2 separate regions of the Homo sapiens genome follow, and region 1 is linked to region 2. Evidence: fine-mapped expression QTL. A gene starts in region 2. The other region holds a variant in brackets. All regions are shown on one strand. Distances are between the middles of the regions.

The links. PIP is the estimated chance that this variant, and not a neighbour inherited with it, causes the effect.
Region 1: its variant is fine-mapped to the expression of PDCD4 in subcutaneous fat (GTEx, PIP above 0.99).

Annotation. Positions count from the first base shown.
Region 1 is chr10:110,775,828-110,792,300 of GRCh38, forward strand. RBM20 (RNA binding motif protein 20) reads left to right here. Exons shown (of 14, transcript NM_001134363.3): 2 at 4,974-6,057; 3 at 7,539-7,600; 4 at 8,514-8,605; 5 at 8,965-9,062. Among named protein-coding and RNA genes, the nearest start is that of PDCD4-AS1, 87 kb to the right of the region's middle. The variant A/C (reference allele first, on the strand shown) is at 8,478.
Region 2 is chr10:110,863,503-110,879,975 of GRCh38, forward strand. It overlaps PDCD4 (programmed cell death 4), which reads left to right and starts at 8,426. Exons shown (of 12, transcript NM_014456.5): 1 at 8,426-8,516; 2 at 12,464-12,568. The coding sequence starts at 12,526. PDCD4-AS1 (PDCD4 antisense RNA 1) reads right to left here and starts at 7,402. Exons shown (of 1, transcript NR_026932.1): 1 at 5,388-7,402. LOC124902500 (a long non-coding RNA gene) reads left to right here. Exons shown (of 2, transcript XR_007062288.1): 2 at 2,672-2,946. RefSeq lists enhancers at 1,266-1,645, 4,047-4,096, 6,924-7,534 and silencers at 4,217-4,286, 8,539-8,588, 8,619-8,768, 8,979-9,178.

The DNA.
Region 1 (16,473 bases), 88 kb before region 2:
ATGCATTGCTTCATGTCCAGCAAAGTACAGGGTGGATTCAGGAGAAGCTGGCTCAAGGCATTCCTAGGAAGTCATCAAGGAGCTGCCTGTACCTCTGTCTTCAGGCCAGCATCTTCTGAGTTGGCTTTATTCTCAAGCAGGCTGTCATTAAGTGATGGCTTAACAACAATTTAGCAACCATGGCATGACAGAGAATCATGCCTGATAGCTCTAACAAAGTATCCGAGAGTGTTCCCCCATGAGCCAATCACTGTTGCCAGAGGGATGTGGTTCTTGGACTGGCCAGGTCTGAGACACGTTGCTTGGGCCCCTATTTGTGCAGAATTGGCCCCTGACTACATTCCCAGAGGGTCTTTGGATGTTTGGTCAGATGGTCTGTACTCTGGGGGGATCAATTCATACCAGCAAGGTCCAGTCAGCCCCTACACCTACCACCGCCTCTCTAGTGGAAGCCACTTTTGCATCTAATTGTCTTGGGAATTGTGTTGGTTTTCTATTGCTGCTGTAACAAATTGCCACAAATTTAATGGCTTATAATAACATACATGTATTATCTTACAGTTCTGGAGGCCATAAGTCCAAAACCAGCCTCACTGGACTACGGTCAAGGTGTTAGTTCCTTCTGGAGGCTCTAAGGGACAATCTGTTTCCTGGTCTTTTCTAGTTTCTAAGAGGCTTCCTGCATTTCTTTGGCTCATGGCCCCTTCCTCCATCTTCAAAGCCAGCAGCAAAGCATCTTCTCTCCTCTCTGACTTCTGTTTCCATCCTTATATCTTCTCGCTGACTCTGATCCTCCTGCTTCCGTCTTAGAAGGACTCTTGTGATTACATTGGGCATACCAAATTAAATTCAGAAATTCAGATAATCAAGATCTTTAATTCAATCATGTCTGCAAAGTCCCCTTTACCATGTAAGATAACATATTCACAGCCTCTGTGGGTTAGAATGTGAACATTTTTATTATTCAGCCTACTGCAGGGATTATCCACTCAATTTAAAAACCTGAACTTAGACAGAGAAAGAGTGTACTGAAGCTCCTGCATTGGAGTGGGAAATTGTAGATAGTGACCTAGGAAGGTGACTTTGTACCTGCTTGTAGGTTTAGTTTTATTTGCTTCTTGGGTGTATTTAGATTGTCCTTTTTGAGCTGTTTGTGGGTTTTTCTCCACAGAATTGGGTACTCATAAAAGAGGTGTCCATATTGCCTCAAAGCCACCAGATTCTGATGAGCCATACCCCTTATCTTCCTTCTTCATTTTGTTCACGGCAATTACTTTGTGCCCATAAAGTGGGAGGCAGTGTGCTGAGGAAATACAAGATTCTCCAAGACACACTCCTTTCTCTTGTGGAACTTATGTCTGGTGGAGTAGAAAGGCACGCACGCAATTATTTTTAACCCAAGGCACAGGATGTGCTGAGTGATATAAAAGTGACAAACTAAGGAGTGGGAAGACAGCAGGAGACATCAGTTCCAGCTTCCAGGGGTGTCAGATCATGCACCCCAATTTTTGGTTCAGAAATATGATCACTACTATATGCACCTCAATTTCAGGTTATTAACTATTGCAGGCTAAGAATTTTAGGGCTTTAAAAATAGTATGATGTGTTTTTTCTTCTTTGTCTAGGGTGTTTGGATGAAAGCAGGTGCTCAGCTCTGATGATTCATGTGAAATCACTTCTACTCAAGGTTGACTAAAGTTGGGAATGATGAAAATTTCCTAGTCAAAGCAAAAATTAAGAAGAAAACCTGGTTAGTTTTCTTATTTTTTGAGGAATCTGAATGGGTTAACGTCTGTAACCTGGGCCATACTCTGAAAAGGACAGGTTTCCCATGGCTGACCTGCAAATACCCAGCATGGCTGGCTTTCCTAGTTGGAAAGCCCTTCCTCACGTGTCCTTTCAGTGGCAAAGGGGAATCTCTACTAAGAGCTCCCTCCTGCCCAGAATGCAATTTTAGAAAATAGAGCTGACTTCTCTGGGAAAAACAAAACCAACCTTGTCTTACTCTGGTCATGGAAACCAACTTGGCACCTCATTATCGCCTTGTTAGCAAGAACAGGCTGTATGATGGACAAACCTGGGAGGAAGAGTTGGCCCTGTGTGGCCACGGTTTTGAGTTAAGCTTAATTGCTTTTCTAAAGCTCAGCTACTTAATACTACACAAGTCAAAATCTATCATCAGACTCTTGACCATCCATTCTCCTCTTCCTTCCGTATTCTTGCCTACATAGACATTGGTCGCTCCCCATTCTGCTGCTGTTGAATTTGTGCTGGGTCACCCAGGGACCCCCAAGGCTTGTTTGCAACCAGCCCGGCTCCCCAAAGGAGAACAGGGCTGTAACTACCTTTAACTTTCAGTGCCCTCTTCCCCCATATTTTAAAATGCAGCCAGCCTGTTCTGCCCTTGGAGCATAGCAGGGCTGCTGGCTGGGGAAGGTGGTGTCTTTTTAACAACTTATAGGCAATTTTTGATTTTTCATGCAAATGGGAAAGAATAACAAAGGCATTTTATCTGGCTCTCAAATGTGCTTTGTACTTACATTTAAATGTGGGTGTGCCTGATGTTCTGGGAACTCCCTTCCAACAAGACAGTGTGGCAACCCATGTCACTTGCTATGTCTCCCTTTTCCTCCTCAGCTGAGCTAGCTCCCAGCCTCTCTCGTTTTTGTTCCATTATCATTGGATTTTTACTGTACAGAACCTGTGACAGTGGAGACTAAGGTGTCCCAGTTGTGCAGTGTCTACCCTGTACTGCCTAAGCATGCTTATTGTACAGCATGCATTGTTTATGGCAACTCCAATTTCCAGTTTTCCAGTCCCCTTCTTCCCATTCAAATGTCCCAGAATTCCAGTTCATCAACATCCTGAACATATTTCCTGATGACACCCACTTTTCAGAGGGGAATTTAAAACCTGGAAAATGTGGTCTTAACCAAAGATTCCCTCCCTGCCTGTGGTAACCACATATCCCAGATGTTCTGGGAAAGTCTTTCCAGTTTCCAGACCATGCACACTGATTTTTGGTCCAGAAACCACTATAACCAACCAATATAGGTCACATGAAAGACACATGTCAGACGGACACCCTTTCTGCAGTAAGATTCGGTGAGAGTCTGCTATTGTCCCCTACCTCAAATTCAGATTTTTTTACTTGTAATTTTTTGGTTATTCCTTATACTAGTTAGGTTTGAGAGCTCAGTTGAAGGGAACTGTGATATTGTGAGATTTGGTCTTCCTCAGGTTTCCTAGCATAAAACTCCAAAAGTCTTTGGAATCGGATAAATATCTTTTTGTATGCTAATAAGCTGACAAATGTCTGGCAGCCCCTTAGGTATCTTTAGGATGGGGTCTGGTTACTGGAAAGACCACAGCAGGATGGAAGGGTTGGGACTTTCAGCCTCACCCCTAACCTCAGGGAAGGAGAATGGGGCTGAAAGTAGAGTTGATCACCAATGGCCAATGATTTAATCAAACATGCCTGTGCAATGAAACCTCCGTAAAAACCCAGAAAGGACTGGGACATGTGGAGGTTCCTGGAGAGGGGGGTGCCCGAGAGGATGTGGGAGCTCTGTACCCCTTCCCAAACACTTTGCCCCATGCACCTCTTCCATCTGGTGTTCATTGGCATCCTTTGTCATATATCCTTTCTAATAAACCAGTAAAACTAAGCATCTCCCTCAGTTCTGGGAGCCTCTCTAGCAAATTAGTCTAATTCTGATTTACAGCCAGTTGGTCAGAAGCATGAGTAAAACAACCTGGGGCTTGTGATTGACATCCAAAGTGGGGGGACAGTCTTGTGGGGCTGAGCCATCAACCTGTGGGATCTGACGCTTTCCCCAGGTAGTGTCAGAACTGAATTGGCAGACACCCAGCTGGTGTCCACTGCAGAACTGGTTGCTTGCTTGGTGTGTGGAGAAAACCTCCCACACATCTAGTGTCAGAAGTGGTTCGTGTTGTGAGAGTATAGGAGACGCTGAATTTGTTTGTGCCTATATTCAGACAGGAAGACAATTCATGTTACTTTTGGATGTGAAATGAGGACAAGGATGAAAATGTGTTTGGCACAAATGTAAACACGATTCACTCTGTAGGCAATTGTTAAGCCTGCCTTTTTCACTTAACATTAGAGCATATAGATTTTCTCATGTCATTAAAGTGGTTTTGTTTTTGTTTTTTTGTAACAGAGACTTTGGCAAATTCAAGATAATGTTTACCATTGGCAATCACGGGGAAGGGTGAGGTGGGGGGAGCACGTAACCAAGGGAGATTTATCGTATTGGAATGCTCTCTGTCTTAAGCTTGGTGCTGTGTACTCTTTTTTGAATGTCCTAAATGTTACATAATAAAGTAGAAATTTGAACACCAATAGTAATGGTTACTTAATATTTTATTATGTTGGTGTATCATAATTTCCTCAGTTCAAATCCCATCTCGCTATTGTTGGATATTTGTAATTTTCAACTTTGGACTCTTAAATAGTATAGTATTAAGCATCTTTGGGTATCAAATTTTGTCTGCATTTGAGCTCATTTTCTCAGTTTTGATTTATATAATTGAATTCCAGGGTCAAAGAATATGGCTATAATAAATGCATTTTGTTAGACTATCTTTTAACAAAGCTGTATGCGTTGATTATCATTGACATTGTGCCTATTCTACTCTCTCTCCAACACGGAGTGCCATTTTAAAAAATTGCTATTTTGCTAGGCAAATATTTGTTTTGAATGGTTTTAGTTTATGTTTCTACTTACTAGTGAGATTGAACGTTCTGTCATATAATTTTTCCATTGGAGTTTTTTTTTTTTTTTTTAATGTGTATGTGTGAGCACAGGTTTTTGCAGATTCACTTGTATGTGGGACCAGTGTGGGAAGGTCTTGTTTATGTGGGAGGGGGGACCACAGATAACAAAGAACAGCCCCTTGCCCCCCTCATTGAAAACCAGCTGTGCATCTAGACCTCTGTCTTCCCACAGTGCCGCCAAGCTCCTGGACAAGAACCCATTCTCGGTCAGTAACCCGAACCCTCTGCTTCCTTCACCTGCCAGTCTCCAGCTGGCTCAACTGCAGGCCCAGCTCACCCTCCACCGGCTGAAGCTGGCACAGACAGCTGTCACCAACAACACTGCAGCCGCCACAGTCCTGAACCAAGTCCTCTCCAAAGTGGCCATGTCCCAGCCTCTCTTCAATCAACTGAGGCATCCGTCTGTGATCACTGGCCCCCACGGCCATGCTGGGGTTCCCCAACATGCTGCAGCCATACCCAGTACCCGGTTTCCCTCTAATGCAATTGCCTTTTCACCCCCCAGCCAGACACGAGGCCCCGGACCCTCCATGAACCTTCCCAACCAGCCACCCAGTGCCATGGTGATGCATCCTTTCACTGGGGTAATGCCTCAGACCCCTGGCCAGCCAGCAGTCATCTTGGGCATTGGCAAGACTGGGCCTGCTCCAGCTACAGCAGGATTCTATGAGTATGGCAAAGCCAGCTCTGGCCAGACATATGGCCCTGAAACAGATGGTCAGCCTGGCTTCCTGCCATCCTCGGCCTCAACCTCGGGCAGTGTGACCTATGAAGGGCACTACAGCCACACAGGGCAGGATGGTCAAGCTGCCTTTTCCAAAGATTTTTACGGACCCAACTCCCAAGGTTCACATGTGGCCAGCGGATTTCCAGCTGAGCAGGCTGGGGGCCTGAAAAGTGAGGTCGGGCCACTGCTGCAGGGCACAAACAGCCAATGGGAGAGCCCCCATGGATTCTCGGGCCAAAGCAAGCCTGATCTCACAGCAGGTCCCATGTGGCCTCCACCCCACAACCAGCCCTATGAGCTGTACGACCCCGAGGAACCAACCTCAGACAGGACACCTCCTTCCTTCGGGGGTCGGCTTAACAACAGCAAACAGGGTTTTATCGGTGCTGGGCGGAGGGCCAAGGAGGACCAGGCGTTGCTATCTGTGCGGCCCCTGCAGGCTCATGAGCTGAACGACTTTCACGGTGTGGCCCCCCTCCACTTGCCGCATATCTGTAGCATCTGTGACAAGAAGGTGTTTGATTTGAAGGTGAGTTGTCCAAGACAGGCTGGGAGCCACAGCTAGAAGCCTGGGCAGGCCTTTCCCCATGACCCAACTCACGCTGCCAATGGGCAAGGAACTGTTGCATTGGGGTAACAGAATTTTGCCATCAGTATTCTTGACTAAAATCACAGGTATTAGGACCCATAGGAATTTCAGAAATGTATCAGGACCAGTCCCTTGCTTGAAGGTGAGTCAGAAATTCTTACACACTTTTTCTAGATGAGAAAGCTGAGGCTGAGTAGGGGAGCAAAGGACCCCACCTGGGTTGCAGAGAGAAGGGGCTCAGGAGTTTCCTGCCTTCTCGTGGAGGGCTTCTCCCCCGTAGTATGCCTAGAATCTACTGCCCCTTGAGTACCCATATTGTAGTGAGTTAGAAAAGAAAAAAAGCAGAATTTTGGATCAGGGGAAACAGATTAATTCCCCCTTGGGACCTAGACAAATTATTATAGAGAGCCTCAGCTTCCCCATCAGCAAAATGGAGGTAGAGTCTCATGACACCTTCCCGGTGGTTGGGAAATGCTTTGAGTTCCTGCAAACAGAGGTATATGATAGTATAATGTCCCCCCAAAAAATGTATTGCAGATGCAGTGAAATATTTTGAAGCAATAACAATTATAACAAATACCATATATTAAACCCTTTCTGTGTGCCAGCAGTAACTCTTATGAGGTAGATATTATTATGATTTTCATTTTACAGATGAGAAAACTGAGGCCCAGAGAGATGAGATGACTTACTCAGCCCCTTCTCCCCGCCACCTCCCCAGCTTGAAAGTGGCAGAGTGGAGATTCAAATGTGGCCCTGACCCTTTCAGAGCCTGCACCATTTAAACACTGGGCTGTCCTGCCTCCCATCTCTCATCCTGTCCAAAAGCATAATAATGTCCTTGCAGAGTGTGAGTCACACTGCAGCATGTCATTCACCTCTGTTTGGGTCACACCATCCAAGTGCATCCCTGTGACCCAGATAGGACATGCCCTCTGACCTCTAGTCTTGGGAGGGGACTAGCTGACACGGGGAGGTGCTCAAGGATTTTGTCTCTCATGAACCTTTTCTAAGGCTTTGTAAGTCACTGTGAGTCTACCTGCCAGATTCTCCCAACTGGATATGAAATAGGTGGGGTCTTCCTGGGGGAAAGGAGAAGGGGTGGGAGGTGGGAGGTAGGTGGTGGGGGCAAGGGTCCATTGAGAGGGGTAGAGGGAATCCAATTTGTGAGTCTGGGCTCCTGTTCAAGATGGGCATGAGATGTATGGATGAGGAGCTGATGGAGCAAAGGCTGGATGGGGAGGCAGGAACAGTGGGAGGAGCCTGGGAGGGAGAGAGGAAGGGTGGAGGGATGTGTCTGCAGGGGTGGTCCAGCCTCTGGGCGCTCTGTGCTCCCTGCCTGACCAGTGTCTCTGTGCTCATCCTTTGCCTTCCCATGGACTCAGTTCTACTTTGGTCACTTTTCTTTCCTTCTGACCTAGGACTGGGAGCTGCATGTGAAAGGGAAGCTGCACGCTCAGAAATGCCTGGTCTTCTCTGAAAAGTAAGTGCTGTTCAGGAGGACAGGCTCATGCGTAGGCTCAACACATATTCACTGAGCATTTACTGTGTGTCACACGCTGTTTTGAGTCCTGGGGCAATAGCAGAGACCAGAACAGGCAAAGTTCCTGCCCTCAAGGAGCTTGTGCTTCACAGGGGCCAGGGAGATGATAAACAAAATGAACAAGAAAATTACAGCATCCCTGGTGGTAAATGCTAGGCAGAAAACACCAGGCAGAGGCCGGAAGTGCGTGTGTGCGTGGGCGTGTGCCTCCCTTTTCTGGCTTTCATTTTTTTCATTGTAGTCAAGTTCACATAGGGCTTACTATTTTAAATACTTTGAAAATACTTTGAAGTATACAATTCAGTGGCATTTAGCACATTCACGACATTGTGCAAATGTTACCACTCTCTAGTTCCGGAATATTTTCATTACTCCAAAAGGAAACCTCATACTCATTAAGTAATCACTCCCTATTCCCCCTAAGCCAGCCCCTGGCAACCACCAATCTGCCTTCTGTCTCTACGGATTTGCCTGTTCTGTACTTTTCTGTAAATGGAATCATATGATATGTGGCCTTTGGTGACTGGCTTTTTCTTTTTTACTTAGCATAACATTTTCAAGGTACATCCATCCATGTTGTAATATGTACAACCTTTCTATGACTGAACAATATTCTATTGCATGTATATATCACATTCTTGTTTATCCATTCATCTTTTGATGGACATTTGGATTGTTTCCACCTTTTGACTATTGTGAATAGGGCTGCTAGGAAGGTTTGGGGACAGTTTTTGTTTGAACACCTGTTTTCAACTATTTGGGGGTCTGCACCTACGAGTGGAATTTCTGGGTCACATGCTAATTCTTTGTTTAACTT[A/C]TTAAGGAGCCGGTTTCCCTTTCTCGCCCTCTCCAGTGCTGGCATCCGGTGTATACTTGGTTCGGCAGAGGGAACATTGTGTGCTTCTCCCAACAGCACAGCTGTTTATAACCCTGCTGGGAATGAAGGTGAGCAAGGCCCTACAGGTCAGCAGCTTGAAGCAGAAGTGGGCTACCCACAGGCACATTATGTCCTGTCTTTAATAACCAGGACTTCCCTGATGTCCCCTTCTCACGGATGTAGAAAGCAAACAGATCCCAAGACACTAAAATGCATTGGGCCTGCTGTCTGGGCCCATCAGTATTCTCTGAGATACTTGAGACGTAAAGCTTTGCTGATTATCAGCATGTCCAGAGGTACAATCATGCCAATCACTAATAATATGTGAAGGGGAAAGGTTCAGTTTTCTATGCCTGCTTATGTCCTAATAATGACTTTTGATGTTACATTCTGGGTTTTCACTGACTTTGTGTAATTCATCATTTAGATTATGCCTCAAATCTTGGAACATCATACGTGCCCATTCCAGCAAGGTCATTCACTCAGTCAAGCCCCACATTTCCTTTGGCTTCTGTGGGGACAACTGTGAGTACGGAAACATTTTCTCTAGAAATTAATGAAAATGATTATTAGTTTATTTATTTGTTTGTTTATTTGAGACAGCCAGGCTGGAATGCAATGGTGCAATCATATCTCACTGCAGCCTTGAACTAACTCCTGGTCCCAAGTGATCTTCCTGCCTCGGTCAACCAAAGTGCTGGAATTACAGGTGGCCAAAGTGCTAGGATTACAGGTGTGAGCCACCATGCCCTGCCTCAAATACCTCTCTGTGTGCCAGTCACCCTGAAATGCTTGTTGCTTTCCCCAGCACTGTGTTCTTCATGCTCAGTATGCACCTGACATGCCACAGGCTGGGAGGATGTTAACACTTTTTTTAGTGGAGAGTTGGCTGGCTTTTGAGGTCTAGACCCATTTATACCTGGTACCCTTCAATTTTCCACTCTGGGAATTACACTTCTCTAGTTTCCAAGATGACATGACCAGAAGTGAGGTGAGCATGTGACTCAGGCAGCCAAGGAGATCATCACACTTTCTGGCCATAGATTGGTTCATGAATGGTGTATGCCTGTAGTCGCAGCTACTTGGGAGGCTGAGGCAAGAGAATCACTTGAACCCGGGAGGCAAAGGTTGCAGTGAGCCGAGATCGCACCACTGCACTCCAGCGCAGGTGACAGACCGGGACTCTGTCTCAAAACAAACAAACAAAAAAACCATTTTCTCCATTGTCATTGTTGTTGTCAAGCGTTTGTAGTATCACCTGCTATATCTGGGCCTAGAGGTGCTGACCTGGCTTTGTGTCATTCAGAAAAACAACCCCAGACAGAAGTGAAGAGCTGTTTAATCCAGTTCATCTAGTATTGAAACACATGACTTAAGAAGCAGACATAAATCCTTAAAATTCAAGGCATTCCTGGACTTTCTAGCATTCAGCGCTGGCTTAGAAAAAAAAAAGTTGGAGCTTTTTATGTTTTTTTAAGACTATTTAATGTTTTATGGAAGTAGATTATTTCCTATGAGAGGGTAATTTTGAAGCTTGAACCAGAAAGTGTGTGAAAGTAAGGACTACGCACCAGTAGCATTTGTTGGCCCCTTGAGGAACTGGTTTGTGCTGTATGATGTTTTTGTTTGTTTTTAGTTTTGCTGTCTCTGCAACATACATTTTCGTCCTCCAAAGCTCCTAAGCTTCATCTCTCCTTTTTCACCAACGGTGACAGCTCCTCTTCTCTCTGGGGTTTCAGTTGTTTTGTGCCACCACCCTACACCCCCATCTGACCTCTTCTTCTCCTCTGGGCAGGAGAAAGGGGAGTGGGAGGAAAACTGACTGTAAAACAAATGCATTTGTCTGAACCCTGCTGGAGGGCACCTGTTTGTGTGCCTTAGCCTGTGCCTGTGCTTTTGTGGTGTGAGTTGCTGCAGCCTCTTTCTCTCTTCTCCTGCGAGTGAACACAAGCTCACAAGAGCATGTCTCCACGTGCTGTCCCCTCTACGTGTTGGCATTGCAAAGCATCAGGCCAGTAAGCTGTGAAGTGCAGCTCTCAGGCTCTGAGGAGTGAGTAAGCGGAAAAGCGAGGTGGTTCATGATGAGACGTGAGGCCTGCCTGAGCCCAGGCTTCTGTTTATTTGTGTGTGTTGATCTGTGATGTTGAATAGGAGAAGCGCTTCGAGAGAGCCCCTGTCTGGAAGCCCACATTTTGGTGAAAGAGAATTTTGTGGTTTCCCTCTCTGCACTCTGCTCGCTCAGAGCCATGCCCAGGTCAATGGCAGCTTCGGGTCAGTCCCAGGAGACTGCAATGGCTAGATTCAGTGAGGCCTGTCCTCTGAGGTCAGATTCCTGGTAACATGACCTTGTGTCCTGATGGGGGTGTGGGCCATGGAGGCACCTCTGTGCTCACAACCCTGCCCTGAGACCCCACTCCAGGCACTGAAGGGGAGGAACTGTGACCACGATGGGGGAGGCTGGATTGAGTGTCAGGTGGGCAGGGGGCAGGGCTTGTAAATTGACTCCAACCTGGGGTCTGGGTACGGGGAAGAGATGGCATTAACTGAGCCCCTCCATAAAGGGGGGTGGATGGGGAGAGGAGAGACACAGGCAGGACATTCTGCAGTCTGTCCCAGGCCTCTTCCCCACCCTCCAGCGCTGCCCATTGAGCCAGAGACCCTTTCCTATGGACTTGGCTCTAGGGACCTAAGTTCAAGTCCTACTTTGGGAGCCACTTGCTGTGTGTCTCCAGGCAAGTCACTTTACTTCTCTGAGGCTCTGTTTCCTTAAGTGGGAACAATAATGCCTTTGGAAGATAAAGTAAACAACTGGATTTCCATCCAGCTTGTGTAATTTATTGTTTTGATTATTCCTCGAATCTCAGAACATCCCATGCAGCTCTGCAGCCCAGGCTTCTGGTTCAGTGGCCAGCGCCAGACAGTGGGAGCAAGGCTTGGGATAGATCCAGTATTGTCCTGCCCTTGTGAGGATCAGATGAGATAATATCAGGGACAATGATTTGGGAACCGTCAAGTACATATGAAGTAACCATGGCTGTTCTTGAGTAACGAGCGCTTTTAACCCATTTTGGCTGTGAAGAGTCGGGGGGAAACCCATGCTGTCTAAGGCTGGCTCTGTCTGCTGGCCATAGGATTTTGTCCGAGTCTTGGTATCAGTGTTCCCCTTACACAAATCTGTCTAGTAATACCCAGGGTCACACTTGCTCCACCTTAGAGATGTTTTGAGGTTCCCATGGATGTACTTTTAAATTACGTACCAGTGGGCAAGCACAAGCTATCTGATGATTTGTGTGTTGATTCTAATTAATTCCTCGAAGCTCTGAGTGCCACTTCCTCCGAACACCTAGAGATGGGGAGTTTATCTGGCTTGAGCCTGGTGAGAAGCAACGCAGGAAACATTTTGCTAGGAGCTAGGAGGGGACAGAGACCTAGGGGACAGCTCTCTGCGAGGAGCTAGGAGGGGACAGAGAGCTAACATTTTGGGAGCTAGGAGGGGACAGAGAGCCCCAGTCATTGTAGGATGATAATAAAAACAACAGCCAACATTTATATAGTACTCAATATGTTCTTAGCATTTTTGTTTTGTATTAGCTCATTTAGTCCTCTAGACAACCCCATGAGGTGGATACTATTATTATCCTTATTGTACAGTTGGGAAACTGAGGCCTAGAGAAGCTTAGTACCTTATATGAGGCCACATAGCTGGTAAATGGAGGTGGTGGGATTTGAACCTAGGCAGCCTAGCTCTGGAAGCCTCATTTGTAACCACTAAGCCCTGCAGCCTCTCTGCGAGGATCTGAGGGGTCTCTTCCTTGCTGTGATCCTCCTCTTTAGTAAGCCCCTCTCACCTCCCCCTCTCCCTACCCCACAAGCCGCTTGGGAGGTTCTGAGGCTGCGTTGCAGGTGACAGGGACTTCTCTGGCCTTGGCCACCCATGGAGCAAGATGAAGAGGCCAGCCACACCTGGTATCCACATTCTTCTGCACCCTGACAGCATCTGCCAAGATGAACTCAGATGTTTGGAGGCCTTTTCTACAGACCCAGTGGAAGGGGAGAGTCAGCATTTGTCTGGTTTTATCATTATAACCTCTGTGACATCTTGCTGGTCACATGAGCCTCCTCAAGCCTATCTGAGGGACAAGGACAAAGCCTGCCCCAGCCAACCCCTACATTGTCAGTGGCTTGATGTTCATTCACATCCTTCTGTCAGACGCTGGTCCCCCGGTTTGCCATTGCCAGCATATGGAATTGAATGCAGGTGTATCTGTCTTGAGGAAAACCTGAAATGCGAGAACATTGACATTTGAAGACAAGCTGAGAAATGGAGAAATGATTAATCCACTCTTGAAAAATACTTTGCAAGTCTCCTTTAAGTAGCAGAAGAGTCCCTCAGAGAAACTATTGACTTTCTTTCTGCCTACAAACACTGACCTCCAAAGATATCACCCCAAAGATAAGGGGTGATTACTCTGTTGCCAAAGGATATTTTTCCAGTTTCCAATGAATGCCCAGTGAGTTGTTTTTGCATATACATTTCTAATGTTTTTCTGCTTACAAAACTTATGCTTATTGTGAAAATGCAAACAGAAAAGAAATACTGAGGGGAATGAAATTCCCCGGTTGTCTCCCTTTCAGCCCTCACAGAGATCCCATTTTCCTCCACAAGTGAGGTCTGGTCCTGCGCCAGCACTTTGTATGTCTGATTCCATTTACATGCATCTTTTCAGAAACACTTTTTTTTGAGTAAAACCAGGAACAGCCAGGATCCTGCCACTGTCTGATCATATCACTAATGTCTGTGGAGCGAAGAGCAGTTACTGCCTCTAAAGCTCCCTGTTTTTAAGCAAGAGAAGACCAAAGTGACACGGAGCTCTGGAAATGAGCCTTCAGATTATATCCGAACTGCCACAAAATCTAAAAGGACCGCAAAGACCATCTGCCACTGCCACCAAGCCCTTCTGGGGACAGACTTGGCTGCATTTAAACTTCTCCCACCTGTGTTGGAGTCTGAGTGTTTCGTTGCCTTGTTTGTTTATTTATTTTTGTTTAGGTTTTTTTTTTCTCATTTTCTTTTCTTTTCCTTTTTATTGTTATTTATTTATTTATTTATCGAGACAGGGTCTCGCTGTGTCACCCAGGCTGGAGTGCAGTGGCATGATCATGGCTTACTGTAATCTCCACCTCCTGGGCTCAAGCGATCCTCCTACCTTAGCCTCCAAGTAACTGGGACTACAGGCATGTGCCACCAGACTCAGCTAATTTTTGGAGAGACAGGGTGTCGCCATGTTGCCCAGGCTCGCGTGTTTATATTTGACAGAGACGGGACACTGCACTGACAGTTGTATGCTGTGTTTGCTGTTGGTAGGGTGATTTGTGTCTGTCCTCAGCCCCTCCCATCCCACTCTAGGGTCCCCAGAGATAGGTGTTCACTTTCACTTAAGCTCCTGCCATTTGAGGCCAGGCACTTTCTCCTTGGCTGACTGAGTCGTCATAAACAGAGTAATCAGGTTTCTGGAAGGGGCCTTGGGGCTTTCTCAGCCTGTTAGTAGTTTTTGTGTACCTGCCCGAGGTGCACTTTCTCTGTGTCTGTCCCTGTAAAGCCACCTTGCAGTTTTCACAACCATCTTGGAGTTTATTTAGTGCCAGTGTCACAGATGGGCCACCCTGACCTGGGATGATACACATCGTTTTTATTATTTATTTCTCGCCAAGACCCTGCACATTGGGGAACTTGTATAAATAAGGAAATGGAGGCTCAGGAAAATAGAAATGTCTGTGGAAGGCCAGAGGTGTAAGTCACAGGCTGCAACTCTGATTACTGGCTGTTTCTGGAACACCATCTGTCTGCCCTGGCCCTCTGAATGCATGGCTTAGAGCGCTCTGGTCTCCTGACTTCTTTGAGCATGAGGACTAGTAATTGATGTGGCATATACTACCAGCCGCCTCCCCACCATTCCAGCTCTGTCATTGCTCCTGTCCCTCCAGCAAGGGCCACCTTGTGCTTTTTCAAAGAGAGCAAAGAGGAGGAGACAGGAGACCTGGGTAGGTTTTGTTTTGGAATTTGTTCTTTTTACAAATCTTACTTTTTCTTGTTGGAAAAGCAGTGTGAACATTGTGTAAACAATCTTAGCAGTAACAGAAATATAAAAGAAAAGTCAACTTTGCAGAGAAAACAGAAGTTAAATGCTTTTGTTATAAGTATATATCTCTCTAGCTAGTGTATGTGTACATGTTTCATTAGTAAAAGTAATTTTTTGGGCACAAACCAGATAACGTCATACAATCTGTTACACAATTTGTTTTTTTCACTTAACATAAGCTTTCAATATATATTTAAATCGATTTCTAGACATCTTTCCACATCAGAACGTAAATAGTTCCTATCTTATTGTGTAACTTCATTTTTGTATTTACCTTAATTTATCAAGTCTGCGATTGATAGGTTTTTTTTCAGTGACACCTGAGTTTTAATCACAAATCTGCCACTGTTTAATTGGCCACAGATTAAGATCCTTAACTTCTCTGAGGCTTCAGTGTCCTCATATACAGCGTGGACCAGATGACCTCCCAATTTTAACGTTTTGTGACTCTACAGTTTCCAGGGATGTTGAAGCTGCTAAACAGGTGAATCGTCCAAGATCCGTAGGCAATCCTATGGATTTACCAGTAAAAGTAAATTCACTCTGAGTCAGAGCTAATATGCTCTATAAAATATTTGAAAGCATCAATAAAGGCAACTGTGTCTACCCTCCAAGTTAAGCCAAGATCCATAGCTACGGAATTTGCAACCATTTGCTATCTGCATGATAGGTTCAAAATCAACATCTTGCTCTCTGCATAACAGGTTATAAATCAACATCATGAGAGATAAATATTTGCCATATCTGCTCTTAGGCATGTTTAGAACAAAACCAGCAGAGGCCCACAGACTCTGTGCCAGATAACATTAGATCACATCTGAGACAGATCAGGCTGGAGCACAGAAATCGTTTACTGAAGATGGAATCTACACTTTGCAGCTCTAGGAGGCAGTTTGAGAGACCTCTCTCACCCTGCAGGCCTGTTGCCCTAAGCCATATTTTTACGGCAACTCTAAGTTATTTGAACTTGAGCCTCTTATTTGAACTCGGGCCTCTTATTTGAACTCATCTGTGAAGGCTATTTCTACCTGCACCAAGGGGCAATGAAAGGTCTTAGAATCTTCATATACAAGTCTGTTTGCTTCTTTTGCATTTCTCCCCAGCTACAAAAGAGTTGAGGGTCAGTTGAGAGGTCTGGGACCCAGCCATATGAACGATCAGGAGCACCATCTGGTTTTAAAGGTGCAGCCCCCGCATGTGAAAATGCACAGCCCAGGCCCCCGATCCCATGTGGGGGCACTCAAGGTCAGTGCTGGCTTGCAGGCAGGCTAAAGCCTCCCTGAGGCTGAAAAAGGATGATTGTCCCTTTAGCTTGGTAATTCAGGCTTTAGTCACACCCCTGCAACTTAGCTCTCTTAGAGATGTGACCTCTGCTGGAAAGTTTTCAGTGCACCTGTCTTACGTGTGGCTCCTTGGCACTCAGCAGACAGAGCCCATCAACACCTTGACCTGCCCTTCTCCCCTACAGTATGTCTTTTAAAATTTATTTTTGGTAACTTTTAATATATTTCAAACTTACAGAAAAGTTACCAAAAAGGTATAAGGAACTCCCATATAACTTTTGTCCAGATTAATTTCACTACTCCTTTATATTTTGCCCCATTTGCTTTGTCATTTTCTCTATCTTCCTCTATCTGTCTATCTATCTATCTATCTATCTATCTATCTATCTATCTATCTATCTATGTATCCATCATTTGATCAGCTGTGCATTTTCCCCTAAATCATTATTTTTAGAGTAGGTTGGTGACATTGTACCTCTTCACTTCTTTTTCAGCATGAATTTCCTAAGAATA
Region 2 (16,473 bases):
AAACTTACTTCATCCTAAAACCCTTTTGTGGTGGAACATCTGTGGAGCATATTTTGAGAGACACCATGTAATGCTTCCTCTCTTAAATAAGTTCAAGAGTTTTTTAAAGATACACTCATGGGTAATGGGGCTGACTTTTGTTTAGGAAATGTTGGGAGGTTTGGCTTATATTTTTGGCCCATTGAAGTCATCATAATGGGAGGTAGGTGCCAGGCCTGACTGGAATGACTATGGGGTGTTCCAAGATGGCAATTCATCTCTTTTTAGGACCACTGCTGTCTTAAAAACCAATTTTGTTTTGTTTTCCTATTGTTACTTTGAAGTACTTTGACTGCGCCTGGTTTGACATACAGAGGAAAGGTAAGTCTGGTGGCCTCTCTTGATGAAATACTGTTGTGTCAAACCCCTATCTACTCCAATGGGGATAGCGCCAGGATCAAGAGGCAGAAGAAGAGACCCAGAGCCAGCAAATGAGACATGGGGTTTGGCTGGGGGCTTACATACAGGAGACAGAGTCCAGTGATGGTGGGCTGGACAAGATAACTGCAAAGTGCAGTGGTGGCCGGCTGGACAGAAGAACCACAACTGATTGCAAAAGGCATGCAGTTTACATATCTTTTTCACTTAGCATCCTTTCCCTAATAACCTCCACCTGGCAACCTTCACTCAACCCAAAACTCAGGGCCTCAAGCTGCTGTACAGCCCATGTTTCACAGGATGGTCTGGGGGCTCAGATGTTCCTGACAGACAAGGAACGAATCTCCTGGTTGGCCACTTCCAGATTCCCTAGCTCAGAACACACATTCAGGTGCATTTGTCATACAAGTTCATTCTCAGGGTATGCTTTAGTTATTGCTATCAGATGCATTTACCATACAAACACCCAGTCTGAAAATGGGCCCAAATGTAATAACATGTAATAACATAAATGTAGAAACATATTCCAGATGTTCTTGATCTTTTCTGGGACATGATTCTTTTGGGGGCCTTATGGGAAAAAGTTATTGACCCATTGTGGCATCAAATGCATATTCATAATAAAACTTGCATAAAATTTTAGGGTGTTCTTGCACCCTCTGAAGCCAACCAGTAAATCACTGGGCTAGATTTACTGTCCTCAAAGAGAGCTCTCTGAAAACAAAACATATCATAGACCTATGTAACACAAGAAACGATAGTAAGACTCTCAGTTGTCCCCTGAGCAGTTATTTTTTTTCTTTCTTTTGAACTCTTGGTTCTTGGAGGGTGGCCTGTTGCTTGCTAGTTCCTGTTTTGATGTTGGCTTTGTCAATTGCGCTGAATGACTGTCAATCATGTTACTTCAACTGCGGTACTTGGGGACTTCCTGGAGCTGTTGTTTACAAATGCCAGTCCTAGTTTCTCTTTCTGAATGCTGTCCTCCTAGCTTTTTGGAAAGAAAAAAAAAACAGGGCAGAAGGACAAGACACATGCAGAGAACCATATGGAAAAGGAAGGCAGCTGTTGGCCGTGGAATGAGGTCCTATGGCTCTGTCTGTGTCTTGCCAGGAGCCGCACCACTTCTGTCTGGGCCTTGGTTTGCTCATTTGTTATCTGAGCAAGTTGTCCTCACCAGGTCATCTCCTGGGACTTTATTCTTTTCTCTGAACTTCTACGGGGCTAGCTTCATTTTTATTATAAACATTTAATAACAAAAAGCAACATCTTTCTTGGGTTTCCCTTGTTCTTCTCTTGCCACTACTTTTATTTATTTATTTTTGCTCAAAATAAATAGAGGTTCGATTAGTTCCATTAATTAACTTCTACCCAGCATTTGTCTCTTCAGCCATCCCCCTTCCTCAGCCCTGCCTTACCCCTGCCCTTCTCTAGCCTTCTCTGTTTGTACTTCCTTATAGATTTGGCTGTCTTAATCACAACCCAAGATCATTCATTTCATTTATTTTCCAGAATGAAAAGTTCCTCATTTCTATACCAGGCTTTCTGGGCCCTACCTCCTTGTCTGGGAAGCAAGCCGACACTGCAGACATAGAGGGGAGGGGGGCATAATGGCAGCTATGTGCACTCAGGGCAGCTGGAGAAAAGAGGATTAATTCTGAGACATGTGAAGCCTAGCCCAGGATCCAGTGTTCCAGAAGAATGCGAATAAAGCCCCGAGAGATACAACTGGAGGAGCACTTCTCTACCCTGACTCAACACTATTAAATGCAGGGCGTGGCAGTTATAATAAATGCTGAAAAGCATCGGGTGGAATGGTCTGTGTTTGCAAAAGTCTAATGAACTGGAGTTTGCAAAGGCTTAGAACTTAGGCCAAGTATAGGAGATGTGGTAAAATTTGTGTTTTGGCGGGGGATATGGTGCGGGAAAGATTTCTTGCTGGAGTTCCTCAATGTTAATTGAGCTTTTTTTCTAAATCTCTAAGGTGGTAGGAGTGATTTGAGGGGGGGAAACCCCATAAAAGACAAATGTACTAAGAAAACCTTTCGAAACCTGAATTGAGGAAATAAAATCTTAGTAGTCTTTCAATTTTTCTTGGTACATACCACAGTAAAATATTGCATCTATTTTTTGAACTATGCTTCACATTACTCTGTGCTTGCTTTTTACCCCAGGAAAGACATGCAAGAAATGCCCCTTGAAGGGTTTCTAAACGTTGTACAATGCTTACTACCCTTTCCCTCTTCCCCACTTTCAGGCCCCTGAGATGGATTCATCTGATACCAGGAGCCTCTAGGACCCAGAAATTTAACTGTCAATCAAGAGGCATGTGAGGGAAAGTCCAGCCCAGCCTGGGTGCCAGAAGGTCTGGATTCCTGGTCTGCACATTCCCTACAACTCTGGGCAGAGATCTCATATGTACTTCTGGCTCAGCTACTAACTTAGCTGTGTGGCTTTAGGTGACCCACTTAACTTCTCTGAATCTGTTTCTCCATTTGTAAAATAAAAGGTTTGGACTAGGGAATCCCCAAATTTCCTTTCAGTATAAAAGTTCCATGATTACCAGTGACCTGCTCAAGGTTCATTATTTCCCTCATGTTTAAAGCACAGAATCTTGTCCACTTCATAGGGAGGTGGTGAAAGTCTATGCACATGTGCTCAGTAAATCTTAGGCCAACACAAATGTCAGCTATCATCATTATTATAAGAATTCTTTATGCAGCTCTTTCTTCAGAACATGTTTTATATCTTTTACCATTTGTGCTAAAGTGCAATTTTTGCCTTAGAGAAATTCTCAAAATTCAGGCTTTGGTTTGACAAAAGGAGACAAGGCGTCAGTTCAGGTAGATGAAGTTGCTGCAAATGACAGCAGCATCTAAAATTTCTTAGGAAGGAAGTGGGCTAAGACCTACCCTTAGCCCCCAGAAAGACAAATTCTCCTCAATTTCATTTAGGGGCATGACCATTTCTTATTAAGAAACAGAACTCTCAAATGAGGCTTTACCCTAAGAATGAAAAGGCCTTGGAGAGTTCCAAAGGCATTAATAGTAAATCTAGGTGCTTATCTTTTGCCTTCAACTGTGCTTTTTCAAGTACTTTACCCAAATTAATTAATTAGTGCTCCTAAACCCACACCAGCCATCACTTTGCCTTTGGGATGGAGGGAGGTGATATTATCTGAGCTTTGCATTAGGAGAAAGCCCCTGGGTTGACAGTCCCTCTGTCCATACCCGGTGGAATCCTCTCCTGCCAACAGTGGCAAACTCCTTTGTTTGTTTGTTTTGAGGTGGAGTCTGTCTCTGTCACCCAGGCTGGAGTGCAGTGGCGGGATCTCAGCTCACTGCAACCTTCGCCTCCTAGGTTCAAGAGATTCTCCTGCCTCAGTCTCCTGAATAGCTGGGACTACAGGCATGCACCACCACGCCCAGCTAATTTTTTTGTATTTTTAGTAGAGATGGGGTTTCACCATGTTGGTCAGGCTGGTCTCAAACTCCTGGCCTCAAGTGATCCGCCCACCTTGGCCTCCTAAAGTGCTGGGATTACAGGCATGAGCTACCACACCCGGCCAGCAAACTTTCTTATCTCTTGTTCTCCATTCCCAGGACTCCCATGGTACCAACTCAGTACCTTGCTCAGCATCCCAGGGTGTTAGAACTGAATGGCTGCTTATGGACTCCCTGCAATGGGCACCTCCTTCTTTTACAGCACAGAAAATTGAAGCATTCAATTCACTCAGGGAGAGGAAGTGAAACACCCAAAGCAACACAGCTAGTTAGGGACAGGGTCACTACCTTGTCTTAAGAGGCGAAAAATAGGAACTATCTCCCACCCTCTCCCCTGACAAAACCAAACACTCTTTGCGCCCCTCCAAGTATCTCAATACTGCTTAAGCCTGAGGAGTACGGGGAAGATGAAGTATGTAACGTTTATCTACTCACAAAGCACAGAGTTTCTGTTGCCACCTCTGAGCAGCTGTCTTGTTCTGGGCAACTGTGATCTCCCTTCCTCTCCTAAGCTCTTGGAATGAATCTTTCTTAAGGGAAATGGAAGTTGCAATTCCATTATTCTGTATAGAGTGAGTTAAGGGGAAGGCCTCTCTCCTTTTCTGTCATCTAATAGCTAAATTAACATAAGCCCATAGGCACAGGGATTCAGGTAACAGAAACCTAGTTTGTGACAATTACAACGTGAAATGAAAACATACATTGTGGCCCAGAAGCCCGGGCAGCCCTAGGCTTCAGATATTACCTACCCTAAAGTAGTATAATGCCTTTTACCAAGAACACAGCTGAATCAACTGTGCTTTTCATAGAACAGGCACACACTAAAATATTTGTGGATTGATTTGGTAGGCAAAAATTCTTGGCACTTGGATACTTCTCCATTTTCAGCTTATTCTTAAAAAAATTTTTTTTGTTAAATGTTCAGCTGCAAAGGCACAGGTGACTAAGTGTTCAACACAGCTGGAAGGAATGTTGGTGACAGTGGCTGTCATCTATATTTCCCAAGTTGGTTTCTAAATAACACTGCTTCTGGGGTATCTTGAGAAAAAAAGGTTCTGTGTTTAAACAAGGTAGGAAACATTACTAATCTTCCTACCTTGGTCTCCCAAGACACTAAAGGCACATAGCTTATTAAAAACACTGAGAAGGCTGGGCACGGTGGCTCATGCCTGTAACCCCAGCACTTTGGGAGGCCGAGGAGGGCAGATCACTTGAGATCAGGGGTTCGAGACCAGCCTGGCCAACATGGTGAAACCTCAACTCTACTACAAATATAAATATTAGCCAGGCGTGGTGGCAGGCGCCTATAATCCCAGTTACTGGGGAGGCTGAGGCAGGAGAATCACTTGAATCCAGGAGGCACAGGTTGCAGTGAGTCAAAATAGTGCCATTACACTCCAAACTGGGCGACAAGAGCAAAACTTCATCTCAAAAAACAAACAAACAAACAAAAAACCACTGAGAAGAGTTGTGGGTAAAGAAACAGTTTTATTTTTGTTTAAACGAGTTATTTCCAAGACCATTTGACCATGGAACAATCCCTCCCACATTTTTTTTTGCATGATATCTATTAAAGTTCCACAAAATTCATGTTCTTTGGAAAATAACTTGGGAATTACTGATTGAGCCCAATTTCTGAATTTTATTGGTAAAGAAAAAGGTCCTGAGAGGGGCTGAAGTTCTTACAGGAAGTTAGTGGGGGAGGTAGGACGACAACCCTATTTCCTGAGTGTCTGGCCCAACCTTGTCAACCACACGCAAATACGGCAGCATTCTCAAAGGTGGGTTCTGGGATCCCAGCCATCATGGGTACTGCTTGAGATGATACGCAAAAAGGACATGAACGTTTTCCTCCCTAATGGGTCCTTTGGGGGCAATTTGCTAAAACATAACAGGTTGTTTTAGATGCTTCTTAAAATTGGTAATCATATCCCATTCTTTCTTTATCTCATAGAACTCGGGATGCCTACCCAACACAGCCTGATTATGCTATATGTGCTTAGTAAGTACATTCAATGAATGACTAAATGAAAGACAGGGAGGAAGAAGGAAACAGTCCAGAACTGAAAGGGATGAGAAGAGAAAAAATGTGGAGAAAGAGAAGGATGGGTAACAAAGGAGCCAGCAGTCACTGATCAGTAGAGTATAGGTGAGAGAGGGGAAAGGAGACAGCTGCAGATAATGGAAAATAACAAAACAAAACTGAGGTCTGGGAAGCTCCGATTTTAAAAAGTGAACATGAGTTATGAGACTAATTCAGATACTGGCCACACCAGGAGGCCCCCGCCCAGGAGATGAGGATGACCACCAACTGCTGAGAATCTTTGTAAACTCAAATCAAGGTGTATTTATTGCACAGGCACAATAAATGAACAAGGCATCTTAAGTACTACAATGACAGGTGAGTGGGTCAGGCACAGTGGCTCACGCCTGTAATCCCAGCACTTTGGGAGGCCGAGGCAGGCAGATCCCTTGAGCTCAGGAGTTCAAGAGAAGCCTGGGCAACATGGCAAAACCCCATCTCTACTAAAAATACAAAAAACTAGCTGGGTGTGGTGGCACAGGCCTGTAGTCTCAGCTACTTGGAAAGCTGAGGTGGGAGGATGGCTTGACCCCAACAGGTTGAGGCTGCAGTGAGCCAAGATTGCACCACTGCTCTCCAGCCTGGGCAACAGGGCAAGACCCTGTCTCAAAACAACAACAACAACAAAATCACAGATGAGTAAGACACAGGTCTTTCCCTAAACAAGGTTACAGTCTAATGGGCAGAAGGGCTAGGACAGGGACTCAGATGAAATAATGCCAGGTAGAATGTGATCAGTGCCCCTGGAGGTGTGGCAAGCCAACACTGTGAGGAATCAGCGGCAGGAAGATCATATCAAATCACGAGGCTCCAGAAAAACTACGAGGGTCCAGGAATGGTGGCTCACGCTTGTAATCTCAACGCTTTGGGAGGCAGAGGTGGGCTGATTGCTTGAGCCCAGGAGTTCAAGACCAGCCTGGACAACATGATGAAACCCTGTGTGTACAGAAAATACAAAAATTAGCTGGGCATAGTGAGCTGTGCCTGTAGTCCCAGTTACTCAGGAGGCTGAGGTGAGAGGATCGTTGAGCTAGGGAGGCTGACGGAGGTCGAGGCAGCAGTGAGCTGTGATCATGCCACTGCATTCTCCTGGGCTAAAGGGCAAGCCCCTGCCTCAATTAAATAAAACAACAACAACAACAAAATAAAAAACTACCAGGAAGGGCCATGAGGCACAGAAGGATTGCATCAGGCGGAGATAGGAGATGAGAAGAGAGACATTTCAAGGTGATATATAAAGAACTACCAGGGGGTGAGGAAGCATATGGGGAGATGTGTGGAGACACAGCCTGAAAGTCTTGAAGTCACATCACGGAGCCTTGAATGACCGACCGAGGCGCTGACACTCAAGAGAGGCAATGGGAAGCCAGTGAAGGTTTGTGTGTGTGTGTGTGCGTGTGTGTGCAGAGAAATAGTAGCATTAGAGATGATTCCCAGGCAGGGTGACTGGGCAGCCAAGGGAAAGCGCTGGCCTGTGCGGGATGAGGCAGTTGGGTTCTGGAGAGCACAAGCAATCATTCGGTGCTGCCCATCAGACAACTGAAAAATCTGATCAGAGGCAGTGGCTAAGTCCCCGCCTGGGAACACAAAGGAAGCCTAAGGTTCTGGTTATCACCCTCAGGGGACCGTGACCTTGAAAGAGTAAGGATAGTACCAGCCAAAACCAATGCAGCCAAGAGGAAAAGTCACAGAGAACAGCGAGGGGAGGTGGAAGTTTCAATACAGAAATTGTAGCCATGGCTGAGAACCCCAGCACTGGAGGCCGGAATTTGTGCGTTTGAACGCCAGAGGCTTGGCTAGTCATGATTAGCAAAGGAACTTCAAAGAGTTTTGGAGCCTGCTTTATATCTGTGAAATGGGAATTATTTCCATCTCAAAGGTTTGAGGGGATTCGCTGAGAGAAACTTCTTAGCATGGGATCTCCAGAAACTGGAAGCCACAGAGAAAGCAGCGGCCAGAGGGAGGAGGAATCGGACAGGCTGATCACTTGGAGTGTTCGCCTAAGCAGTTTCTAGAAATGGAGGCAGGGACCATCAGGAAGCTCAAAACCTTTGCTTCAGCCGAGTTTGCAGAACGCCCTGTGAGGAGAATGGGTGAGCTGGGTCGAGGAAGCTTCATCCTCGTCCCCATCCCCCAGCACTGCCCTTTTCCCAACGCTCCCATCCCGCCACGCCTCCCAACATACCCCCACCCCGACTTCCCGCTCAACTCCCGCTCCAGCCAGTCCCAGGAGCCACATGCGCATGCGCCCTCCCGCGCCCCTCCCCAACTTTCCACGTTTCACTCCTCTCCCTTTTCCTCCTCAGCTCCGGCTCCGCCGCCACGATTGGCCAGCCGACCACCCGGCCTCGGCCAATAAGCGCCGCCCTCTCGCCCCCGTGTTACTGGGTAGAAGAAAACAAAAACAAACAGAGCGAGAAGGGCCAGAGACTCTCCGAGGCGGCGGCAGAGACAGAAGAGCGGGGTCGGGGCCGGCTGACCAGGAACCTGGGCGAGCAGCGGCGGGGGCCCGAGGGGTCAGTACCAGTAGGCGCGGCTCACACGCTCGGGAAGACTGCGCCCTCTCCCCCATCCCTCCTCGGAGGCAGCCGCAAGATGGGAGGGGGCGGGGGCGGAGGCGTGGGGGTCGCGGTCCTGTCAGGTCCGGGCCTGCGGTGCGGGGGTCCGGCTGCCTTCTTGTAGCCCCGCAGGTCCAGCCGCGCCCTCCCCAACGCCCCGGACTGCGGGCATCCGGCCTGGTTCCCTCTTTCTGAGCCCAGCCTGGAGCGTGTCGGCGCGGGCCCGCCCCCTCCCGGAGCCATCTCCCCACTGAGAGGGGCGCGCGAGGCGCTCGCCCTTGAAGGTCCCCCTCAGCCCTCCTCCCCCTCTGGCGGAGGTTGAATTCGGGGGCCGGGATTGGAAGGCGTGTTTCCGGCTGGACTGAAATCCTGTGAGGAAGATTCGCGCCCTCCCCGCCCCCTGCCCTCCCTGGGAATCCTCTGAAGATGCGGCCCCCTGTCCTTCGTGAACCCGGAGCCCCGGCCTCGGCCCCGGCCCAGCCCCTTCCGGGGGCCGACCCGGGCTGGGACTTCGGGGGTCCTAGCCTGAGCCCGCTGCGGGAGAACAGGCCCGGCCGCTGTGGGGAGGGGCCGCGCGCTATCCTCGCCGGGGGCGCTGGGAGGCGAACACGTGCCCGCCGCCCCATCCCTGCGCGAACTTCGTCGCGCCCGTCTTCCGGCAAAGGGTCTCTTTTTTTTAGTTTAGGTAAAATAAAATCTCCCAGAGAAAACAAAGCCGGGAAGGGAGCCCCCTTTCTGTGAAACGCATGCCATCTTCTCCATTTGTCAGTTTGATGCTGTAACGTACATGGGGTTTTGCAAGAGCTTCAAAACTGTCTGCAGACGTCAATTTCGCCCCCCTCCCCCTTGTGAGAACTCGCTACGTAGCCAGCAACTGTGTAGTGTCTACAAATGATGAAAACGATCAGAAATGCGATTAGGTGTCGGGGAAAAAAGGGTTTCCCCTGTTTTTAACTTGTATTTTTACTTTAATTGTTACAATCTTGATATTCTTAACGTGACTTTTTTGGGAAACCACCAAGTGCTTTTTAAGCAAGGAGTTACTGGTATTTATGCCCTTAATATTCCTTCATTATAGGCTTATTGAATACGTTAATATCTCAGTAAGTGTATTTGAATTATAATTGACTGGCTTTTTCTGTGGTACTAATGTGAAAGGAAAAAATATTAGGACTGCAAAAATAAATGCCGCTTGAATATTATCTGTAGTGCTTGCTTTTGCATTACTGTAGTAGAATGCTTTTAGCTGGTTTTAAGCTGCTAATTAGCCGTTCGTAGCCGAAGAATGAATACAAGTAATCCTAGTTAATAAATGGCCAAAGCTTGACTCCCCAAAATGCCAGAGCAATTTATGAGGTATATTTCAGGAAATACATATGTATATATTTCGTGGGGGAGTGGAGGGTCTGTCTCTTAGGGAATGTCTTGGCAGTTGAATACTTCTGATTGTATATTTCGTGTAACACACTGGAGAAAAGAACAGTGTTTAATGTCAGCCTTCATTTTCTTCTAACTTGTATGTATAGTTTTCTCATCGAAAATTCATTTTTGTAGGTTAGTATGAAGGAAATAGCGTTTGGATTTTTTGCTTTATATTTTCTTGTTTGGGCCAATTAAGGGTTGTTAAATAAATTGGAAAAAATCCTACTACTTTAAAGAGCGTAAAAACGTGGAACATGTCTTATCTAAACTCTTAAAACGTGTTTGTTGCTGTCAAATATGACTTGAGTTCCTGATCGGGTTATCATTGCCTAAAGACACAGGACTATTTTTTTTATTAAGATAACTTTGTTTTTATCTTAATAAAAGAGATGATAGTCATTTCCTGACAGTTTTGTCTGACGGAATGCCTTCTGTATAATAGTTTAAAATAATTATTTTTAGTGTTTGGAAAACAGCATTTAAAAGTTTGAACAGCAGAAGTCTGTTTTAAGAAGCTTCTGTTAACCCTTGAAAAGAATCTTCCTGTGGGATATTAAAATTTTGGATTGAACTTGTGCAAACAGTACTGGATTTGGAAGGTCTGGATTCTCATCCTGGCTGTTCCACTAAGCAGCTGTCTGTCCTTGGACATATCACCTACCCTCTCTGAATCTGTTTAGTTGTGTGTAAGGTGGAATACCTACCCGAAGGTTTTTCTGTAAGGTACATTAAATAATACATGTACAATTCTTTTTGAATTGTAAAGGGCTTTATGAACATCAATTATAATCATTTCGCTTATTAGGTTCTGCAGAAAGTATTCTCTCAAAAGTTATACTTTCATCAAGAATGAAAAAGACTTTGTAATGGAACTCTAAAAAACTGAAACACGTATCATATGACATTATTCCTTTCCTATATGTATTTCATGCATGGAATTAAAACAGAATGTAGCCTTTTCAGCCATGAAGGATGCTGAGTGTTTAGATTTGCAAACCATTTTTGTTCATATATTTATATGAATCTCTACATATTTTTAAGATTTTTTTTTCATATCTAAAGTTGGCGGGAGTTATAGTGAAAAGTGATTATAAAGATTCACATATATTAATTTATTCTTAACAGAATTAGAGAATGATCTCACCATTTTCTTAAGTTCCCAAGCAATATGATAGCATATTAGTCTGAGGATTATACCATAGTAAGAAGCCTATAATTTTAACATAAGGTCCATTTGTTTTTGTTTCACAAAATAATACCGTTTTCTGAAGAAAAGGGCTATAAACTTATGTTAGCAAATAGTAGTACATAATGAGGAATTTAAAAGTCAGTTTCACCTTTGAGTCCCAGGAGGCTCTGTATATATCATTGTTATCCTAAAATGACATCTAACAGTAGGTTAAGTTATATAGGAAAAAATGTGCTTTTCTGTAATTAATTTATTAGGCATTTTCACTAATTTGTGCATTTTATATCTCTGAAGAGCACACTGCTAGCAACCTGATTGTAAATGACCAGAAGGACTTATATCCAACCTATGTGACTTAAACATACACTTAAGTACTCTAAACCACTATTTAAAAAATACTTCTAGAGAGATTCTGAAATCTTAATTTGGTTGCACTTTCTGGTAATATATTTTTTGAAAACTATTTTGATATTTCTTTCATATAACATTATTGGATCTGTATCACTAAGTTAATTGTCTAAAAGGTAACTGATTTCATCAAACCTTCCAGTATTAATAATTTTTAAGCCATTTTGAAACTGAGGCCTAAAATACTGAAATGCTTATGTCGTTGTACTTACTCCTTTCTGAAATGATCAGATTTTTAAAAAATGGATTTCTCATATAAATAATATTATCAAAAAAGGATTTCTCATATAAATAATATTATCAAAAAAGCTGATTTTAAAAGTTTCTCCCAAAGTCTTATTCTAGTAATTATAGAGACCTAGGTAATGAGTGGCAGATATATCTGCCTTTCAGATATGCCGTAATGTGAAAAATAACACAGTCATGTGATATTCTTTATTAACTAAAACTGTGTTGTTTTTATTTTGGAGTAGTTCTCATAATTCATTGGTAGGGAACTATCCAGTATTTATATTCCTATGTATGTATATCAGATTAATTTTGAGGCTTGGTATTCCTAAAAGATTTGGATGTGTGTATTTCTTTAACTTGACGTAAACATGTATCACAAACATATCTTTTAATTCCAATTAAAGGGGTGCTTTGGCACATGCTGAAATCTGGGATTTTTTTTTTTGACTTTGATAAATTTATCAAAAAGATTGGAACCAAATGTTAATTAGGGTAAGTTGTCTTTGAAAGTAAAGTGAACTGTTTTATTTAATGGAATTGTGTGTTTTTTGTTGTTGTCGTTTGTTTTTACAGTGTGCTTAAGTAAGTTTAATTCAGCTTAATTACATCAGTTTAAAAGATCTTGAAGCTTTCTTTTTTTCTTTTAAAAAAACAGATTCTGAAGGAAGATTTCCATTAGGTAATTTGTTTAATCAGTGCAAGCGAAATTAAGGGAAAATGGATGTAGAAAATGAGCAGATACTGAATGTAAACCCTGCAGGTAAGTAAGGATATCCTTTTTTCTTTTTTTCTTCGTTTTGAGACAGGATCTTGCTCTGTCACCCAGGCTGGAGTGCAGTGGTGTGATCATGGCTCACTGCAGTTTTGACTTTCCTGGGCTTAAGAGATCCTCCCCTATCTCAGCCTCCTCAGCAGCTGGGACAACAGGTGTGTGCCACCACACCAGGCTAATTTTTTATTTTTTGTAGAGATAGGATTTCACTATGTTGCCTAGGCTGAAATATCTTGAAGCTTGACTATGTTGTGAGGAAGCTTCAGACCATTCCATATTTTATAAAAACATGATAGAAAAACTATCTTTAAATACTCTTTTATTCATGCTGTAAGAAAACAGGCTATATTATTTTTAAAGTCAAGTTTGTGATTTTTATTTTCATGGAAATTCATTACATGTCCTATTTTTCTGCCTATCCTTTCACATTCCACATATTCCTATTCTCTGTTATATAGTACAGAATAGAGAAGAATAGTGAGCCTGCTTATTTTCACATGGGCTAGTTAGTGATTTCTGTAATATAAACTTACTGGTATCTTTGGTATCTTTCCTAACAAATAATTTTTATATTCTAAATTACCTAGGGTATTTTCCCTAATTCTCCATGGTGCTTCAATAGCATGTTATTATCATAAAAATGAACAGTTTTGTGGAATAGATGACCAAATGTGAGTAACTCAAGATAATTTAAAATGTATTTATAGTTTTAAAAATAATCTCCCAAAAAGTTAATTAGAATTGTGTAATATCTGAATAGTGAGAACAGTTCATATTGGTATACTTTGGATAATTCTTTGTCTTATAATTTTATTAATATTGAAAGCTATTTTCTGTCATTTTAAGTGTATTTCGTAACTAAATACTACATCTTTCTTTCCTCAGTGACTTAACTCACTATTGTTTACAATGTACATAGTTTTCTTTGATCTGAACAAACATGTTGAATTTGAAGCTTCTTTACCATTGTTTATTTACAGATCTTTTTAAAGTATGGTAAAAAATTGAAAAAAATTTATGTAATTAATGATCATTTCTGTGCTGCTGTATACAATAGCTGTATGAGTATGCTTTAGGGTTATAAATGGATAATATGTACCTACTTAATTGAGATGGGGATGGTAATACAGTTTAGAATATATTTTACATATAGGTAATTGCTTCTTTTCTGCACTGTCCAGTATGGTGACCACTAGCTACATGTGGTTATTACTCCTGGGCTCAAGTGATCCTCCCTCTTCAGCCTCCTCAGTAGCTGGATTACAGGCGTGTGCACCACTGTGCTTAGCCACATGTGTTTGTTGAGTACTTGAAATGTGGCTACTCTGAGTTGAGATGAAGGTCAACTATCTCAATAATTTGTTATATTGCTTGCATGTTGAGATGATATGGTTATATTAGATTAAATAAAATATATTTAAATTAATTTCACCTGTTTTTACTTTTTAATGTGGCTACTGGAAAATTTAAAATTTCTTATATGGCTTGCATTCTATTTCTATTAGAAATAGAAACACAGCTTTAAAATGTGTACTTTTTGTTTCCTAACTACAATAAGACCTAGTTCTAACCCTGTTCTTGGTGCTTGTGTCCAGCACTGCTTTAAAATAAAAGACTTGTTCTTCAATATTTGAATAGGCCTAAGATAGACCCTCTTTGTAGTAAATTCTTCACATAGCAAATAGTCCAAGTCACACTCTTACTCTTTTACTTGGAGGAAGTAGGTTATTCTGACCTTCAGTTTTTTCATGTATAAAATTGGGATATAAATACCCTCTGTATAGATTTATAATTAGGATTTAGTGAGATATTGTATATGTGTGTTAAGTCTGTGAAGCACATACTAGGTATGTAATACATGAAAGTGTGGTAATGTTATTCTAATTATGCCACTCATTGGACACCAGTAATTGAAAATGTGATTTTCTGGTGCTGTGGTCATATACAATTGGAGTGGTTACTATTGAGATATCAGAATTCAGAAAGAGGGAATTAGTACACAGTAGGAAACAATTTTGAAGTCAATCACATTCTGTACTCAGCTTATCATTTTAATTTTGGTTTTCTTAAAGTCAGCTCAATAGGGGTTATGGAACTCCAACAGTTAGGTGAGTATGAGTAACAAAATATAAAGCAATTAATACAAACATGGGTTAAAAATGATAAGGTCAAATATATAAATTATACTGAGAGAATGTTTACTGCTGCAGAGACACAAACATACTTGAAAGGATGTTAAAATTGTTGAAGAAAAGAAAACTCGATTATGGGAAATAGATGTATTTAAATTGAATACTCCAAGGGACAGTTTAAGACATTTTATTATAGTTCTGACTCCTGTGTCTTCTGGACCAGTTTTGTGGTTCACCTTAATGGCACAATGATGAAAGCACTATGTTACAGGTAGATGTTTAATGTTTTTCTCAACCATCCACTCTTACACGAAAATGTCATCTAATTTATGTGATCCTGATCTTTCTGTCCCCTTCCACTTAATCATTTTTGTTTATCTCTCTTTACATTCACGCCCTTGTTCGTCTCTTTAGCTGTCAATACTCTGCTGTATTCTAGTTTTGTATTTTCTGTAGTTATATGGGATTAAAAATGTGGGTTTGAATTCTAGCCATAATCCTTTCTAGATATGTAACTTCTTGTGAAACACATTCCTTCTGTAAAATGAGGATAAACAGTTTCTTTCTAGAGCTCTTGAAGCTTATAGACCACATATGTAAAGTGCCTTAGCTAATAGGTACCAGGTAGTGTGGAATCTAATAGGTACCAGGTAGTGTGGAACCTGGTATCTAATAGATGACAATAGTAATGGTAATGATGAAAGAAACAGTACTACGACTACTTCCACTAAGACTATAATTACTACTGATGGTTATGATGATGTCCCAAACACACCATCCTAACACCGGCTTCTTACCAGTTTGAAAACTTTTAAGGCATTGTTTGACTTCTCTTTAATCCTAGATACATTCTGCTTAAAAGTCCTTCATTATTTTCTTTAAAAGTGTAACATTATTATTTATCCCACAGTTACTACCCTTGCTCTTTACCAGTTAGCTTGTGACTGAATTACTGAAGCATTTTCTTAGCGGTTTCCTACTTTATACTTTCTCTTTTTGTAATATACTCAGTATTCTTCTGCCAAATGAATCCCTCCCATCTCTTCCCTATGATATCTAACTTAAGCTCTGACAATTTGAGTGTGGGAGTAGTTAGCAGTGATTCTGGTGAGGTAAGCAGGGGCAAGATCATAAAGGACCTTAAGTTACAAGGTAAAGAGTTTACATTTTGGCTGGGTGCGGTGGCTCACGCCTGTAATCCCAGCACTTTGGGAGGCCGACGTAGGTGGATCACGAGGTCAGGAGATCAAGACCATCCTGGCTAACACGGTGACCCCATCTGTACTAAAAACACAAAAAAATTAGCCAGGCGTAGTGGCAGGCATCTGTAGTCCCAGCTGGGGCAGGAGAATGGCGTGAACCCGGGAGGCAGAGCTTGCAGTGAGCTGAGATTGCACCACTGCACTCCAGCCTGGGTGACAGAGCGACACGCTGTCTCAAAAAAAAAAAAAAAAAAGTTTACATTTTTTGTGACATAATGGGACTACTTTTAAAGGATCTTCAGTGAGGGCATGCTTGAGAAAATCAGTCTTCATTCAGTATAGTTTGAAGACTGGAGGCAGGGAGACTACTTATGAGACTAGTGAAATAATTTGGCTCTAATTGATGATTTTGTTTAAAACAAAACATTCCTACCTTCCTAAGTATGTCAAGAATTGTAAAGATTTAAACACATGTATGCTTTTTATAGGTTGGTGAAAATTTTTGGTTTCAACATGTCTTAAAACATATTAAAGCCCATGCACATAGACCTGACATGTT